Linked DNA regions of Homo sapiens. The protein of the gene in region 2 purifies or fractionates together with the protein of the main gene of each other region. This does not show direct contact. Each region holds a gene or a part of one and is shown on either strand. Other genes may lie near its edges. The genes, in order: SEPHS1, CLIC4, ST13 and PDCD6.

What was found.
Region 1: the proteins of CLIC4 (region 2) and SEPHS1 fractionate together in Homo sapiens (co-fractionation; one large-scale study listed by BioGRID). This does not show direct contact.
Region 3: the proteins of CLIC4 (region 2) and ST13 fractionate together in Homo sapiens (co-fractionation; one large-scale study listed by BioGRID). This does not show direct contact.
Region 4: the proteins of CLIC4 (region 2) and PDCD6 fractionate together in Homo sapiens (co-fractionation; one large-scale study listed by BioGRID). This does not show direct contact.

What each region holds. Positions count from the first base shown.
Region 1 is NC_000010.11:13,330,663-13,335,268, forward strand, and holds part of SEPHS1 (selenide, water dikinase 1), read right to left. Parts: intron 3,310-4,606; coding exon 3,155-3,309; intron 1-3,154. UniProt on the Homo sapiens protein: Synthesizes selenophosphate from selenide and ATP.
Region 2 is NC_000001.11:24,810,615-24,815,220, reverse strand, and holds part of CLIC4 (chloride intracellular channel protein 4), read right to left. Parts: intron 1,128-4,606; coding exon 1,002-1,127; intron 1-1,001. UniProt on the Homo sapiens protein: In the soluble state, catalyzes glutaredoxin-like thiol disulfide exchange reactions with reduced glutathione as electron donor. Can insert into membranes and form voltage-dependent multi-ion conductive channels.
Region 3 is NC_000022.11:40,828,456-40,833,061, forward strand, and holds part of ST13 (hsc70-interacting protein), read right to left. Parts: intron 4,217-4,606; coding exon 4,114-4,216; intron 2,502-4,113; coding exon 2,385-2,501; intron 1,220-2,384; coding exon 1,171-1,219; intron 1-1,170. UniProt on the Homo sapiens protein: One HIP oligomer binds the ATPase domains of at least two HSC70 molecules dependent on activation of the HSC70 ATPase by HSP40. Stabilizes the ADP state of HSC70 that has a high affinity for substrate protein.
Region 4 is NC_000005.10:302,253-306,858, forward strand, and holds part of PDCD6 (programmed cell death protein 6), read left to right. Parts: intron 1-1,924; coding exon 1,925-1,969; intron 1,970-4,349; coding exon 4,350-4,508; intron 4,509-4,606. UniProt on the Homo sapiens protein: Calcium sensor that plays a key role in processes such as endoplasmic reticulum (ER)-Golgi vesicular transport, endosomal biogenesis or membrane repair.

The DNA.
Region 1 (4,606 bases), on a different chromosome or scaffold from region 2:
ATACCAACACCCAGCTCCCCAGCTCAACCTATACCATTTGTATCCACTCTCAGCTTTGAAAAATAGAATTCTGTGACTACGCAAGAAACTTGTTTTCCAAAAACCAGACCTGAAGACATAAATGTCTTCGAATTCAGACTCAGTTGTACCATAAAGTTGATGTTCTTTTTTTTTAAATTTTTTAAAATTATACTTTAAGTTCTAGGGTACATGTACACAACATGCAGGTTTGATACATAGGTATACATGTGCCATGTTGGTTTGCTGTACCCATCAACCCGTCCTTTACATTAGGTATATCTCCTAATGCTATCCCTCCCCCAGCCCCCTACCCCCGACAGGCCCTGGTGTGTGATGTTACCCGCCCTGTGTCCAAGTGTTCTCATTGTTCAACTCCCACCTATGAGTGAGAACATGCGGCGTTTGGTTTTCTGTCCTTTTGATAGTTTGCTTAGAATGATGGTTTCCAGCTTCATCCATCTCCCTGCAAAGTACATGAACTCATCCTTTTTTACGGCTGCGTAGTATTCCACGGTGTGTATGTGCCACATTTTCTTAATCCAGTCTATCATTGATGGACATTTGAGTTGGTTCCAAGTCTTAGCTATTGTGAATAGTGCTGCAATAAACATATGTGTGCATGCGTCTTTACAGCAGCATGATTTATAATCCTTTGGGTATATACCCAGTAATGGGATTGCTGGGTCAAATGGTATTTCTAATTCTAGATCTTTTTTTTTTGAAACTGAGTTTCACTCTGTCACCCAGGCTGGAGTACAGTGGCACGATCTTGGCTCACTGCAACCTCCGCCTCCTGGGTTCAAACCACTCTCCTCAGTCTCCTGAGTAGCTGGGATTACAGGCGCCTGCCATCGTGCCCGGCTAATTTTTTGTATTTTTAGTAGAGACAGGGTTTCACCATGTTGGCCAGGGTGGTCTTGAACTCCTGACCTCAGATGATCCACCCGTCTTGGCTTCCCAAAGTGCTGGGATTACAGGCATGAGCCACCACGCCCGGCCAAAAGACTGACTTTTCTTAACAAGACATCAAACATGGAAAGTGACAACTTGGTTAGGAGAGAAACTTCTCCAAAGAAGATACACAAATGGGTAGTAAGCACATGAAAAGATGCTCGGCCTCATCAGTCATCAGGCAGACACAAATCAAAACCACAAAGACATTCCACTTCACACCCAGTAGGCTGGCTAGAATCCAAAAGACAGACAGGAAAACAAGTACTGGAGGGGTCATAGAGAAATTGGAATCCTCATACATTGCTGCTGGGAACGTAAAATGGCGCAGCCATGTTGGAGACCAGTCTGATGATTCCTCAAGTTAAACATAATTACCACATGACCCAGTCAATTCTTAGGTATACACCCAAGAGACCGGAACTTATGTCCACACAAAAACTTAGAATGTTCATGGCAGCATCATTCCTAATAGGTGGAAACAACCCAAAGGTCCGTCACCTGAGGAATGGCTAAATAAAGCAGGGTCCATCCATGCAATGGATTATACAGCCATGGAAAGGAATGCGATACCGATTCATGCTACAACACGGATGGACCCGGAAAACATTCCGCTATGGGAGTGAAGCCAGACACAGCATGTCATGCTGCACGATTCCATTTCTATACAATGTCCAGAACAGGCAAATCCTTAGAGACAAAAGCACATTCTTGGTTGCCAGAGGATGGGAGCAGGAGGGAAATGGGAGTGAGCTACAGGGCTTCTTTTTGGGGTGATGAAAACATTCTGGAATTGGATAGTGGTGATGGGTGCACAACCTTGTCAATACTAAAAACCAACACATTGTGTACTTCAAAATGCTGAATTCTATGTTATGTGAAATTTTGTTACGTGAATTATACTTCAACTAAAAAACCTAAAATGTCAGCCGGGCGCGGTGGCTCACGCCTGTAATCCCAGCACTTTGGGAGGCTGAGGCGGTCGGATCATGAGATCAGGAGATCGAGACCATCCTGCCTAACATGGTGAAACCCCATCTCTACTAAAAATACAAAAAATTAGCCGGGCATGGTGGCAGGTGCCTGTAGTCCCAGCTACTCGGGAAGCTGAGGCAGGAGAATGGCATGAACCCGGGAGATGGAGCTTGCAGTGAGCCGAGATCATACCACTGCACTCCAGCCTGGGCGACGGAGTAAGACTCCGTCTCAAAAAAAAAAAACAAAAACACCTAAAATGTCTTAAAAATAGGATTAAAATACTGACACATGCTACAAAATAGATGACCCTTAAAAGTATGCTAATACTATGCTAAGTGACAAAATCCAGGATGGAGCAGGAGTGAACAGTGAGAGCCGAGGAGGATGGGGTTTCTTCCTGTAGCAATGAAAACATCCTAACATCAACTCCGGTAATGGCTGTACAACTCTGAGTATACTCCAAACCACTGACTCTTTAAATGGGTGAATGGTATAGTACGCAAATTATATCTTAATACATCTATTTTTTTTTTTTTTTGAGATGGAGTTTCGCTCTTGTTGCCCAGGCTGGAGTGCAGTGGCGCGATCTTGGCTCACTGCAGCCGCAGCCTCCTGGGTTCAAGTGATTCTCCTGCCTCAGCCTCCCAAGTAGCTGGGATTACAGGCATGTACCATCATGCCTGGCTAATTGTGTATTTTTAGTAGAGATGGGGTTTCTCCATGTTGGTCAGGCTGGTCTCAAACTCCCAACCTCAGGTGATCCACCCGCCTTGGCCTCCAAAAGCGCTGGGATTACAGGCATGAGCAACCGCGCCCAGCCTTGCGTTCTTGTCTTTTTTTTTTTTGGAGACAGAATCTTGTTCTGTTGCCCAGGCTAGAGTGCAGGGGCATGATCTCAGCTCACTGCAACCTCCACCCCTGGGGTTCAAGCGATTCTCCTGCCTCAGCCTCCAGAGTAGCTGAAACTACAGGCTTGCCCCACCATGCCTGGCTAATTTTTGTATTTTTAGTAGAGACAGGGTTTCGCCACATTGGCCAGGCTGGTCTCAAACTCCTGACCTCAGGTGATCTGCCCGCCTCGGCCTACCAAAGTCTGGGATCATATGTGTGAGCCACTGCACCTGACCTTAATACATCAATTTTTAAAAAGAGAGGACAGAGAGAGAAAAACAGGTCAGGTGATATGAAACAAAAATCAACTTACATGATAAATTCATTGGGTTGGCAGACAGTGGTAGCCACTCCTCCCAGGACAATCCAGGGGTTTAGTACTGTTTGGCCGCCTGTTACAGATGTTCCTGCTTCCTCAGCTGCGTCTTTAAAACCTTGGATAATCAGAGGCATCACTTTATCCCTTTCCTAAGGTTGAAAAAGGTACAAATAAAAAGTCAAAGAATTCTGTTCAAAACCCAGAAAAGAAGGTTTTTACACTTACAGTTATAAAAAGAACCATAAAATCCTAAAGGAAGTCCTCAAAGTTTACAGACAGGGAAGGTTGTTAGGGGCCAGGCATAATCGCTCACGCCTGTAATCCCAGCACTTTGGGAGTCCGAGGTGGGCAGAGAGCTTGAGCCCAGGAGTTTAAGACCAGTCTGGGCAATGCAGACAGACCCCTTTCTCTACGAAACATGTAAAAATTGCTGGGTGACCGGGCACAGTGGCTCATGCCTGTATTCCCAGCACTTTGGGAGGCTGAGGCGGGCAGATCACCTGAGGTCAGGAGTTTGAGACCAGCCTGGCCAACATGGTGAAACCCCGTCTCTACTAAAAATACAAAAATTAGCCGGGTGTGGTAGCATGCGCCTGTAATCCCAGCTACTTGGGAGGCTGAGGCAGGAGAATCGCTTGAACCTGGGAGGCAGAGGTTGTAGTTAGCCAAGATCGCATCACTGCACTCCAGCCCTGGGCACAAGAGTGAGACTTCATCTCAAAAACAAAAAAAAAAAATATTGCTTGGTGTGGTGGCATGTGCCTGTGGTCCCAGCTATTCCGGAGGCTGAAGTGGGAGGATGTCTTGAGCCCGGGAGGCTGAGGCTGCTGCAGTGAGCTCTCATCACACCACTGCACTCCAACCTGGGCAACACAGGGAGATCTTGTCTCAAAAACAAACAAAAACAAAAGCTAGAAAATATTTCACATTGTCATCATTTTATCCAATGCTGGAAGATGTTCTAGACAACAATGTAAATAAAGCCCAGACACCAACATTGTCTGGACTCAGTGCACAGGACCAGCCCTAGGTCTGATGACTGCTGGAAGCCAGCTGTCCAGTGCTCCTTGAGAATCTCAAGACTGGCTTCCTAAGCACAGGTCCCCTGCCCTGCAGTAGGCATCCATCCTACCAAGGCTTGGCTGCAGGCTACGAGTAACCCACACTGACAGAGCCTGCGCCAAGACCACCATGCACCACTGATGACTACAGCCCATGTTCAAGGGCAGGAAAGAGCCTACTGGAAACTCAAGTTTCTCTAAGGCAGGGCAAACTGTTGGGGGCTCTTGGGACAAAAACAAGTACCTGTCTATCTAAATAGGAATTCATCTCTGGTTCAAAGAACAGGTTCAGGCAGCAAGGGCACAGAATGCTAGGCGATGACACAGAGGCGTGAGCCCCTGGTGGCCCTATCCCCCGTCACCATCTACGTCCACGACATCCCCA
Region 2 (4,606 bases):
CAGCCTAGCAATGAAGTATTTTTAAATTAAGGTACATGCAATATTTTCAGACATAATGCTATTATTGCACACTTAAAACACTACAGTATACTACTGTAAATATAACTTTTACATGCACTGGGAAACGAAAAATTTCACGTGACTCATTTTATTCCAATATTCATTTTATCACTGTGGTCTGGAACCTAACTCGCAATGGTCTGGAACCATACCCTTCAGGGTATGCCTATAATTATTTTAGAACCCTCCATCTCAATAATCCCATTCCTGGAAAATATATCTGGACATGGAGGGCAACAGTCAAGTTAACCAGTAAGAAAGGTTTTGGTCAGTAGAAACAAAACATGTCAATTTTCAGGATAATGAAACTGGAAAAGCCTAAAAGAAACAAATAATGCTTTGAATCTATGCCAATATTACAGTATGATGCAAAGCTGCATATCTGCAATTTAGGTAACTATCATTACAGTACATCCAGGACCTAGAGATCTGGAACACCTCAAAGAAGTAAGTAAATAAAAACTCTGAATCCTAGGGACACAGTCGGAAAAGTCAATGTCCTTGGATTATAGCTTTAGAAAGTTACCTTTAAAATGAACTGAAATCAAATCTCATTGCAGTCCTGTGCCACACTCCTGCTAAGACATTCTTACTGGGTTCAGTTGGAATGTGTCTTTCCCCACCCCTTCTCCTCTTTAAACTTCTCTCTCAGTTTGAGACCTACAGTCCACAAATAACCAGTCTTTCCTGACCTATCAGACACATCCCAAATCTGTTTCTACCACATATTCTACAGCTTAGACAAATCCCCACCTTTCTTAGTATGGCTGATTGGCCTAGCTGGAAGCCAATTCTTATATCTGTGTAGCATTAATTATAAGAAACATAGAAGAGAGTCCTAGTCATTCCAAATTAATGCTGCGAGAAAGATCTCTACTGACAAATAACACAAGCTTCAAAGAAGTGACAATATTTTCATACGTATTTTCCTTGATACTCACTTGGGAGGGCATAAGACTTCTTCAAGAAATTCCTCAATCTTATTTACATCCGTTTTGACTTCACTGTTGAAAGTTATAAATGGTGGGTGGGTCCCGGGAGCCAAGTTCTGCAGGTCTGCTGGCTTCCTGTTGGGCAAAATATTGGTCAAAATCAGATCATTTTTTACTCTTAAACAACAATAATACTTTAAATTCTCAAAGTTGGCCAGGCACGGTGGCTTGCGTCTGTAGTCGTAGCACTACAGGAGGCTGAGGTGGGACACTGCTTAGCCCAGGAGTTTGAGACCCAGCCTGGGCAACATGGTAAGATCCTGTCTCCACAAAACATAAAAAATTAGCCAGGCATGGTGGTGCGTGTCTATAGTACCAGCTACCAGGGAGGCTGAGGTGGAAGGATCACTTGAGCCTGGGAAGTTGAGGCTGGAGTGAGCCATGATCGCACCACTGCACTCCAGCCTGGGCGACAGAGAGACCCTGTCTCAAAAAGAAAATAAATAAATTGTCCGGGCATGGTGGCTCATGTCTGTAATCCCAGCCCTTTGGGAGGCCGAGGCGGGTGGATCACCTGAGGTCAGGAGTTTGAGACCAGCTTGGCCAGCATGGTGAAACCCCATCTCTGCTAAAAATATAAAAATTAGCTGGGCATGGTGGTGCGCACCTGTAGTTCCAGCTACTTGGGAGGCTGAGGAAGGAGGATCACTTGAACCCGGGAGGCGGAGGTTGCAGTGAGCTGAGAATGTACCACTGCACTCCAGCCTAGGTGACAGAGTAAAACCCTGTCAGAAAAGAAAAAGAAAAAGAGAAAAAGAAAAAGAAAAGAGATCAAAGTGGTTCTAAAATTTAAAGTATATAAAACTGAATAAGAAATGGTATTTTTCAGCCGGGCACGGTGGCTCACGGCTGTAATCCCAGCACTTTGGGAGGCCAAGGCAGGAGGATCACGAGGTCAGAAGTTTGAGACCAGCCTGACCAACATGGTGAAACCCCATCTCTACTAAAAATACAAAAGTTAATTGGGCGTGGTGGCATGTGCCTGTAATCCCAGCTACTCAGGAGGCTGAGGCAGGAGAATCGCTTGAATCCCGGAAGCAGAGGCTGCAGTCAGCAGAGATCTCACCACAGCACTCCAGCCTGGGCGACAGAGCAAGACTCCATCTTAAAAAAAAAAAAAAAGAAAGAAAGAAAGAAAGAAAGGTATTTTTCAACCAGGTGTGGTGGCTCACGCCTCTAATCCCAGCATTTTGGGAGGCCAAGGTGGGCAGATCATGAGGTCAAGAGATTGAGACCCTCCTGGCCAACATGGTGAAACTCCGTCTCTGCTAAAAATATAAAAATTAGCTGGGCATGGTGGCATGCACCTGTAGTTCCAGCTACTTGGGAGGCTGAGGAAGGAGAACCACTTGAACCCGGGAGGCGGAGGTTACAGTGAGCCAAGATCGCACCACTGCACTCCAGCCTGGTGACAGAGCAATACTCTGTCTCAAAAAAAAGAAAGAAATAGTACTTTTCCACTAGATATAATAGCTGTAATAGTATTCTAATAAGAAGCAAGCCTCCACAAAATACATAATTTATGGTAAGAAAATGCTTTGATTTTTTTTTTAACCAAAATACAAAATCCATCATTCTCATTCCAAATTAACTAAGTCACTCATTAGAGATAGTGATAGAATGAGGAGGGAAAAAAGATTTTGGAGAGTTAGTGTCTGGTTTCAACTCTGGCCCCAACTAATTGTGTAAAGATGGGTAAGTCATGACTTCCCTAGGCCTTTTTTTTTCTTTTTGGCAAAATAAAAGAGAAAAGCAGCTGAATCCTGCAGTCATCTTCAACTTCAAAAGATTCCAAATTCTGGTGCTATTTCTTTCCCATTATTCTAGAAGTCCAGGCTTGACAAGGAAAAGGATCACCAGATTAGACTATCTAATATCAAAATTACTTCAATACATAAAAGATGGCATAATGAAGGGTAAAAAGCAACAAAGAATGGACAAAGTACTGAGTGAGAAAAGCTTAAAATCTACATTACCTAAGGATTTTGTCCAAATTCATTCCAAAGGTCATCAAAAAAATCAAATAGGTATGGGTCAAAAGAAATTGATGAGAGACAGATAAAACAAGTGAACACACAGAAAAATGTAAAATAGCACAACTATAAAGGGAATTTAAAAGTAAACAATAAGATGTCTTCCTCCTGTTGATTAGGAAAAATTGAAAACACCACAAAACACTGATAAAGATGGTGAAACTGTTATGCTGACAACTACTAACAGCAAGAAGTGTTTGTACTATCTTGTTAAAAAAGCAAAATGGCTCACCCAAACCCACCAATGAATTTTAGGATCAAAAAATGAGATGACCAGATATGGTGTGTTTCCTATGGCACCATGAAGTATTCTTACCAAAGAAGTTGACCCTGAATCTAATCAAGCCTCTGGGGCAGGCTGGGTGCAGTGGCTCATACCTGTAACATTAGCACTTTGAGAGGCCAAGGCAGGAGGATTGCTTGAGTCCAGGAGTTCAAGCGAGACCAGCCTGGGCAACATAGTGAGATCCCATCTCTATAAAAAAATTTTTTTTAATTAGCTGGGTGTGGTGGCATGTGCCTGTAGTCCCAGCTACTTGGGAGGCTGAGATGGGAGGATTGGTTGAGCCCAGGCGGTCGAGGCTGCAGTGAACAGTGATCATATCACTGCACTTCAGCCTGGGCAACAGAGTGAGACCCTGTCTCAAAACAACAACAACAACAAACCAAAACAAAGCAGCCTCTGGGGCAGCTGTTTCTCAAATTGTAAGCCAGGAGACCCTTTCACCAGGTGATCCATTAGGTCAGAACTATTCTTATAATACTAAGGCATCATTTGCCTTTTTCACTCTCATTCTCCTCTCGTGCACATATAGTAAAATTTTCCAAATTTACTTGGCTACTTGGTACAAGATATCACAAGGTAATGAATGCAGAAGCAGACACGAGAAACCTCTTCTAAGATGTGCAAAAATGTAAAAGAATGCCACTCTTCTCACTATTTTTTGTTTTGGGAAATATAGTTGTTTTACATTAAAAATGTTTTATGGTAATAAGTAGTGGGTTCATTATTGTTCTATATTTAATGAATTAGTAAATGATTTTTTTTTTTTTTCCTGAGACAGAGTCTCACTCTGTCGCCCAGGCTGAAGTGCAGTGGTGCGATCTCGGCTCACTACAAGCTCCATCTCCCAAGTTCACGCCATTCTCCTGCCTCAGCCTCCCAAGTAGCTGGGACTACAGGCGCACACCAAGCCCAGCTAATTTTTGATGTATTTTTTAGTAGAGACAGGGTTTCACCATGTTAGTCAGGATGGTCTCCTGACCTCATGATCCGCCCACCTCGGCCTCCCAAAGTGCTGGGATTACAGGTGTGAGCCACCGTACCCGGCCATAAATAAACATTTTTAAAATTTCTCAGGATTTTTTTTTTTTGAGACCAGTCACCAAAGCAGGAGTGCAGTGTCACAATCATGGTTCCCTGCAGCCTTGATTTCCTAGGCTCAAGCAATTCTCCTACCTCAGCCTCCCAAGCAGCTGGGACCAGAGGCACACTCCATCAAGCCCAGCTAATTTTTAAAA
Region 3 (4,606 bases), on a different chromosome or scaffold from region 2:
AAAAAAAATTAGCCGGGCGTGGTGGCAGGCGCCTGTAGTCCCAGCTACTCGGGAGGCTGAGGCAGGAGAATGGCGTGAACCCGGCAGGCGGAGCTTGCAGTGAGCCAAGATCACGCCACTGCACTCCAGCCTGGGCGACAGAGCGAGGCTCTGTCTCAATAATAAAAAAAAAAATAATATAGAGAAAGACAACATTAATGTATTCTACAAAGGGTCACTGTAAGTAAAGCCGTTTTAAAGAAGGAAACACATGATAAAGTCATTTTTACCTGCTTCCACAGTTAATTAAAATATGGCCATTAATAACTAACAATCAGAGATGAAGAAATCTAAGGGGACCATAAAACAACTTCTAGTTTCTCTTGCTGCCCCTACTTATCCCAAAGCTTTGAAAAATTAGTGCCTACCCGTAACGAAATTACTGACCCAAAGCTTGTCAAATCTAAATAAAATGTACATAACAGAAAATTCTCTCTAGTACTAGCCCAACATTAGCAGTCACTTTCTAAAACAAAGATATCTGACAATAAGATTATTTATATTTTACATAGGAAGTAAACTATGAGCTAAATTTAATTTCTTGCTTTTTCTTCAAACAGCAGGTCATCCTCAATATTTGTTCTAGGTTTGTTTTCTGTTGCTGTGCACATACTCTTTCAGAATAAAGGCTAGATTTTCTAGCATCGGATCATGCAACTAAGTTCTAACCAGTGACATATAAGCATACGTAGCCTCTAAAAACTTTCCTTAAGAGAAAGCTAGTTACCATTAAACAACTGGAGACAGTTGTTTAAAAAACAAAAAATTAAGTCTTGTCCTGGTCTTTATATAAATTCCACACTGTCGTAATCAGGAAGTACTCAATAAATCTTCTGCGTGCCTTTTCCGTCTCTTCTATCTCTGTGTTAGTCCTGTCCTCTGGTATTCAAAGATTTGCCTCACTAGCAATTTCTGATCACATTTGAAAGAAAAATACGCTATTTTTACACTGTACAAAAAACATCATTTTTATGCCTAATAATTCCATCATTTCTTTTACCTAGGTTCTTCATGAATATCACTGTATAAGAGAACAAAATCAGAATATCACTTTATAATAAATATTAAGTATTATATTAAAATATCACTGTATAATAGAACAAAACAGTTTTAACTTTTCTTTAAATATACCTGGAAAAGAGCCATACTGAGCTCCTGACTGTCGTCTGGCTTCTTCCTCCTTTGATACAAAAGGAAATAAATTATATAATAGAAGAAGAAATAAGTGCTGTCCATGCAACCTGTCCATGCAAGACCATGAAAAAATTGTAAAATAACCTAGTAGATGGCAATACTGAACTGAAGGATATACTTCATACCCCCTTCAAACATTTTTTCCAAACTGGATTCTCAGTGGGCATTATTCTTGGTAGTAATTTCAAGTAAAGTGTTTTACTTCTACTCTGGAAACAAGTAAACCTGGAAAACAATTTATAGTACTAATATGAAAACTCTAAATTCATCCTGGCTTTAAAACACCCATAGGGAAGGACATGGCTAGATTACCAAGACTACCATGACTTTTGTTTCCTAGGTACATCTTTTCCGTTATTCTCCCTACATAATACAAATGTAGATTTATTGATTTGTTTTTGCTGCTTTTTAAAAGAGAAAATGAACAAAAAATAAATATCCCTCATATGTAGTTTTAAAATTATTGAGGAGATATATTGCTTTTAAATATCAAGGAGATAAATTACTTTTAAAGATTATAAACTATAACCTTAAAATCAAGTATGATGCTTAATATTAAATGGACAAAAAATTAGAATGTAACATATTATATAATACAGCCTTAGGTTCTTTCATGTTCTTTCATTCAATAATGTTAGAAATAAGTAGGTGAATTATTGTAGCATCACACTATGTTGCCCAGGCTAGTCTCGAACTCCTGGGCTCAAGTGAACCTCCCACCACAGCCTCCCAAGAGCTGGGACTATAGGCACTTGCCACCTTGCCCTGCTAGAATCATTTTTAAATAGCAACACATCCACTGTTGGAAGAGAGGAGGAATCATAAATTTAATTAATCTGGCGAAGCATCCTCAAAAGATCAAACAATAATACTGTCACATTTCAATTACTTGACCTGGAAAAACAACTGATTTTATAAAAACACAAACAAGAATATAAAATGGTGAAATAAAAGCTCACTGAATAATTTAAGACTAAAAATGTCCCCCAAATTAGATACAGTGAAAGGAGACTCCCCATAAGTAATATCATTACTCTATAGAACTGTAGCCAGCATTAAATAAAAGAGCCAGGAATTAAAATTTTAGTGTCCTAATGCCTCTACATAATTTGCCGTATTTTCCTTTCATGGCTTAGCTATAGGAAATTTACCCTCTGGGCTCTCTCATGCTCTTCTCGAGCCTTCTTAACTCGTTCTATTCTTTCTTTGATCTCTCGCTCTTCACGTTTTCGCTCATACTTTCTCCGATGTTCTGCAATTTTCTGTGCCTAGAAAAAAGAGCCATAGCAAAATAAGCTTGCTCCAAAAGCTGAATAACATCAACACAAATATTCTTTGTAGAGAGATGTTTAATTCAACATGCAGTTCAGAAAAATGACAGATTTGTCTTGTACAAAAAGACCTAACACAAGCTAAGCCTTTAAGAAAACCAACCTCAACTGCATGAGGCACTGTAAAACAGAGTAAAGGGGCCTGGGATTTGAAGTTAGAAATGTTATAATCTCAAACAATTAAGCTCAAAGATTAACAAACAGGTTTCTAAGTGCATGACAATTCTTGCCTGCTAGTTTCTATCAGATACACAGTGTTTAGGTTTCAGACGGACAGCTGAATTCAGTAGGAAGAGTATTATTACGGATGTCTGCCGTGGGAAGGCAGAGACTGGGAACTCATACCCCAAGTATATGCCACAGTATATTTAAGTTTCTGTATCCATAAAATGGGAGAGGAAGAAATATTTAATATTATCAAATTGCTATAGGGATTAAGAGGGAAAAATGTAAATATGTATACCAGACACTAGTATCAAATAAATGCTCTGGATGTTATTTCCTCAGAGAATAAAATACATTTAAGAGATTCATATTCAACTGTCACTTTAGCTTGTTTACACTTTGCTGACAAAGTTACAACTTTGCCCTATTTTAAGAAGAAAACAGAAAACCAAATGAACTCTCTGGCAGTAAATAATTAAATTCAATACAATTCCCACTATCTTAAAATCTCTGAGAGTAAATTCTTGACAGCTGAACTTCCCACAAAATGAAGGATTTACCATGTAAACACATTAAAATTATTTTAACCAACAATTTTAGATAAAAATCATCCTTAAAAGCTGGAATGTTCTACTTTTGGGATTCAATATTATTATTTTTAAAAGATTGAAACTTCTTTGTTTTATTAAGACAGCCTCGCTCTGTCACCCAGGCTGGAGTGCTGTGGCGTGATCTTGGCTCACTGCAACCTTCCACCTCCCAGGTTCAAGTGATTCTCCTGCCTCAGCCTCCCGAGTAGCTGGGACTACGTAGGCGCATGCCACCACACCTGGCTAACTTTTTGTACTTTTAGTAGAGACAGGGTTTCACTACGTTGGCCAGGCTGGTCTTGAACTCCTGACCTCATGATCCACCTGCCTCGGCCTCCCAAAGTGCTGGGATTACAGGCATGAGCCACCGCGCCTGGCCGGAAAGCCTGAAACTTCTTAACTTCCACAAGGTCTTCTTGCTTTATAAAGTGGTTGTACACACCTATGATAAATAAGGACACATCAGATTCAATCCTGGGTAATGCTAATTATAGATTTTCTATTTGTTTCCTTGTTGTAAACCTGATACCCCCTTTTCTAATTTTCTGGTTATAATTCCACTGCAGGCTTCCAAACAAAGTAACAGAGTTTGCTCTAATAATGCATGAGAAATGAAAGCATGAAAACCTAATGAGATCTCCAGAGTCGAGCACAAACTTCAGCAATTACAGATTATATCTTCCAATGGTTTGTTTCTTTGCCTGTTTTTCAGATGAATTACAGCTGTCGGGGGCTAAGCACTACAGCGATGGAGTATTTAACTAATGACTTTCCCTTTCTCTACTTTGACATACCCTAGGTTGAACTTCTTTCAGCATTGCACTAGCATCTTCATCATAATCCAATTTACAGGCAAGGGCAAGATCATGGGCTGCTTCTTCCCAGTGGCCTAGAAGTCTGAAACAGATTTACACTCATTTTAGGAGCCTTTTATACATATTCACCTATGTGGCATGATATCTTTCTTCCTTACAAAAAAGGATTGTTCTAAAACAGGCTTAAGTTAAATATTAACTATAAACTTTCACTAACCAATTCAATTACTATATCCCATTTTAGTTAACTCTATAAAAACCTGAAAACATTTAAATTTCCTCTATTTAAAGCTGCTTTTCTACTAAAAGCTAAAAAACAAACAAAATCTTTCTTAATTCAGAATATCGTAATTTTCTAAGTATGTAGACCAGTAACTTTCAACTCGCCCAAACCAGGACTAACATAATGTGTTAGCTTTTAGCTACCTTCTATGTAAGACAGAAGAGAAAATAATACATGTGTACAGGCTTT
Region 4 (4,606 bases), on a different chromosome or scaffold from region 2:
ACAGCTTCCCTGCATAACTGCTGGAGGGCGGGTCATCGAGTGCTGCTGTGTGTGTGGGCCTCAGGTTCAGGTGCACCTGCCTTTGTGGGAAGGGCACAGCTTCCCTGCATAACTGCTGGAGGGTGGGTCGTGGAGTGCTGCTCTGTGTGTATGCCTCAGGTTCAGGTGCACCTGCCTTTGTGGGGAGAGCACAGCTTCCCTGCATAACTGCTGGAGGGCGGGTCATGGAGTGCTGCTGCTGTGTGTGTGTGTGTGTGTGTGTATGCCTCGGGTTCAGGTGCACCTGCCTTAGTGGGGAGAGCACAGCTTCCCTGCATAACTGCTGGAGGGCGGGTCATCGAGTGCTGCTCTGTGTGTATGCCATGGGTTCAGGTGCACCTGCCTTTGTGGGAAGAGCACAGCTTCCCCGCATAACTGCTGGAGGGTGGGTCATCGAGTGCTGCTGTGTGTGTGGGCCACGGGTTCAGGTGCACCTGCCTTTGTGGGGAGAGCACAGCTTCCCTGCATAACTGCTGGAGGGTGGGTCATCGAGTGCTGTGTGTGTGGGCCACAGGTTCAGGTGCACCTGCCTTTGTGGGGAGAGCACAGCTTCCCTGCATAACTGCTGGAGGGCGGATCATTGAGTGCTGCTCTGTGTGTATGCCTCAGGTTCAGGTGCACCTGCCTTTGTGGGAAGAGCACAGCTTCCCTGCATAACTGCTGGAGGGCGGGATCTTCCCAAGGGGAAGTTGGGAGGTGCTCAGGCGGAGCAAATGGATTTAACTTCTGGGCTGGGAGAATGTGGTACCCCCGTGGAAGTCTCCCTGAGGAAGGAAAGGAAGGAGCTGGAGGGAGGGTGTGTGTGTCTTAGGAGGGGACGCACTTCAGGTGAGAGCGGGCATGGCACTAGGAGGAGCCCCATGAGCCCAGAGTGGTGGCACGTAGAGGCCTAAGGGACCATGCCAGCAGACCCCACCGCCCGTGCTCCACCAGGAGCCTGACATTGTTCTCTGAGATCAGGGGGCTGTCTCTGTGTACTGCCCAGGACTGTGGCATTTTTGTGCATAAAAAAAAAAAAAAACTGTGTGTCTAACACAGACGGGGTATGAGGAGAGCCACTGGTCTCTCCTGACCTTAAAAATATTTTTTTAGTTCATTTTTAGTGAGTATGGAAATTACTGAAGGTACAAATCACTCTGAAGATAGGTTCTTGTGTGCGAAGGTCATCAGTGAATCTTCATTCTCAGAGTTGATAAATGGTTGTGAGCGCTCAAGGGTATCAGATTCAACGATGAGTCTGAGGATAGTACAGCTTTCCTATTCAGTTTCAAGGAAAATCATATAAAGCCCAGACCGTAATTTGTCAGGAATGTTTGAAGTGTGGTGTGATGGATGTCTTCACCGTGCTTTAGGATGATTACTGAGGGAGAACGGAAGGAAGGGGTCTGGTACTTGCACCTTTCAGTAGAATTAGTGTGAATGCCACAGCGACCAAGCTATGTTCAGGTGTCTGCAGGCAGTGGTGGCCTTGATGATGGATTTTCTGAAATGGGAATTCGTGAAGTCCTCTAACAAAACTAAGTGCGAACTTCTCAACTTAGCTGGTGACTGCATCCTTGAAAAATTCTGTGTGTAAAATGATACAGAACCATTTCTTGGTTATCTGTTAAATAAGAGTGCATGTCCAGCCGCGATGACTGTGGACGGCCTTGGAGGTCTGGGAGGCCACGAAGGACTCCCACACACAGCAGGGTGTGAACCCACCAGGCAGTGCTTTGGCCCCCTCCCAGGAGTCATGGCAGCCGACACGTCACCTGGAGTGTCTAGAAAACCACTACCTTAGAGCCCCCACTGCTTTTCCTGGTGCCTCCAGGTATAGATCACAAACTCAGTGTCCCAGAAAGATTTTCCTTTTACTTTAACTCCTGTTGTTGTTTGTTTTCAGGCACGTGGACTCCCTTTAATCCAGTGACTGTCAGGTCGATCATATGTAAGTATCGGCAGACGGACCAACCTGGGCTGCTTTGTATCCGACCCGCTTGGGTACCCGCTTGTGTTTCCTTTGTCTGTGGGTCCGTATCACTTTGCTCCCTTCTGGAATTCCACTTAGATGAGCGTCGGCCCTTTCATCCCTCTCCCTCCGTCTCTGTACCTTTTCACATCTCTCCGTGTATGTTTGCTCTATTCTTGATTCTGTTTATTTTTAATGTACGGTGTAACCTGTCCTTTCAGTTTCTAATTCTAAAGATGACATATATTTAAAATTTCTAAATTATTAGTTACTTTCACATCTTATCTGGGTGTTTTTGATAGACATTGCTTATTTATTTTTGTGATTCCATTCTTTATTCAAATATTTCATATGATAGTCTTCAGTTTTAAGAACATGCTTTTTTGAAAAGCGCTAGATATTTGTGACATGGAGCTCCTTGACTGTGTTTGAAGTCCTTGGGAGGGTGGTCTACAGCCAGATATTTTTCCTGCTCAAGCCCACACAGAGTGACCAACTTCCTTGATGCTTCTGTAATTTTTGTTTGTTTTGTGGGTTCATGTGTAGCCTTAATGTGAGGGTCTGCATCATTTCTTTGGGTCCAGGGTCTCCCCAGCTGTATAGGCAGCTGGGTTTTTGTTTGTTTCTTTTAAGAGACAGGGTGTCCCTGTGCTGCCCAGGCCTGGTCTGGAATTCCTGGGCTCACGCAATCCTCCTGCCTCAGCCTCCCAAAAAGTGGGGATTACAGGTGTGCACCCCCATGCCCAGACGGTAGCCGGGGTGTGAGCTGAGGCTCCAGGCGCAGGCAGGTGTTCAGGAGAGTCGTGCTGTGTCTCCATCCCCCGTAGCCAGGTGGGAGCTGCAGCTCCAGGGGCAGGCAGGCCTGGGAGGCAGGTGTTCAGGAGAGTCATGTTTCCATCCCTACCCGACTTGATTTCTGGAAGGTTCCCTTTGCTGGGAGGTGCAGCCCCCTTCAGACCTCTTTAATATGGAATCCCAGGTTCAGTTCTGCCTCACAGGGACCATGGCATTGTGTCTCGAGGTTTCCCAGAGCGGCCTGGGGCTCATTCCCTCGCCTCCCATCCATGCACGTGTTTTAGTCTTGTGAGGATTCCCTGAGTTCCTTGCGGAGCCTGTGTGTGGTGAGGTGTCTGAGTCCTAGTGTGGGTGTAGCTGGGGGCTTTTCCAGATGACTGTGCCCTGCTGGTCGTGCATATGTTGCTACGTCACACTGATGGAGGGAGAGAAAACTTGGAAGTGTAGTAGTGGCAGGGCTCAGCCTTTAGTGCTAGAAAAGGTGTTGATACATGGGGAGCTACCTCCCCACCGGAGAGGAATGGCCTGGGAGCCACTCCTCTGCGGAGCCCTTACCCTGGGGTGCAGCTCACCCAGCATCCTTCCCTGCTGGTGTGTGGTGCGCAGTGGGTCCTGCACGCAACAGCATCGTCCACACACACTGCACACATCGTGGAATGGTCGTATGAAAAACAGCCCCTGGTCCACACACCACACACGTCGTGGAACGGTGCACGTCGTGGAACGGTTGTGTGAAAAACAGCCACTGGTTGCACACAGGGTTGTGGACTGTTGGGAAGAAACATCGATGCTGTTTCTCACATGATTTTTCATCCTGTGGATTTTCATTTAATTGTAACATATTTCTGATCAAACCAGGAGTAGTCTTATTGCAGTCCTGTATTAACCTCTGTTCTTGAAAAGAGACCACGTGATTTATCATTTTCTCTGCAGCAGTAATTCACACTGAATTTTTCTATGTTTTTTAGCCATATTGCAACTACATATAAAGGTAGTTATAGATTCTTTTGTATTTGGACCTGGAGTTAGACTGAAAGCAAATAGGACATAGGCGAGGGTCTGTTTCTAATTAAAGCAGGTTTTCCTGACAGGGCTGTTCCAAGACTCCACCAGTGCTGTGGGCCCTGGAGAGTCAGAGGGTCAGCTCTGGGAATTAGATTCGCGTTCTAGGCCGAGACCCAGGAGCCAGGGGAGCTGGGGCCACTTACCTTCCCCGTGCCTCGGAAGCTGAGTGTGAAGCTCTGCTCTTCTTTCTGTCGTGGCTGCGGCTGGATTTCCTCACACATCCCATTGCACGGCCTGCCTCACAGCTGCAAGTGCACCTTCTCCTGGGACTTAGGGGGTCAGGGCTGGGGGACAATCCCCCACACCCCCACCCAGGGCGAAGGTGACAAGACTTTAAGGGATTTCACCCCATTCACAGACAGGCATGCATTGCCCAGTCCCTGGTTAGTGGTCAGCAGTGGGGCCCCGCCAGGCTCTGAGGGCTGAGGTCTGGTGGGAAGCCTCAAGTGAGTTTGCTGCAACTGATCTTTTGCTGCTTGACCGTTCCTCTCTGTCTCAGCCATGTTTGACCGTGAGAACAAGGCCGGCGTGAACTTCAGCGAGTTCACGGGTGTGTGGAAGTACATCACGGACTGGCAGAACGTCTTCCGCACGTACGACCGGGACAACTCCGGGATGATCGATAAGAACGAGCTGAAGCAGGCCCTCTCAGGTTTCGGTAACTCACTCACTCTGGCTTGTGTAGCGTGTTTCATTTTGGAACCTTGGAGCCGTTGAAGTTCTTTAAACCTTGTTGGACTTAACTGATTGTCTAAC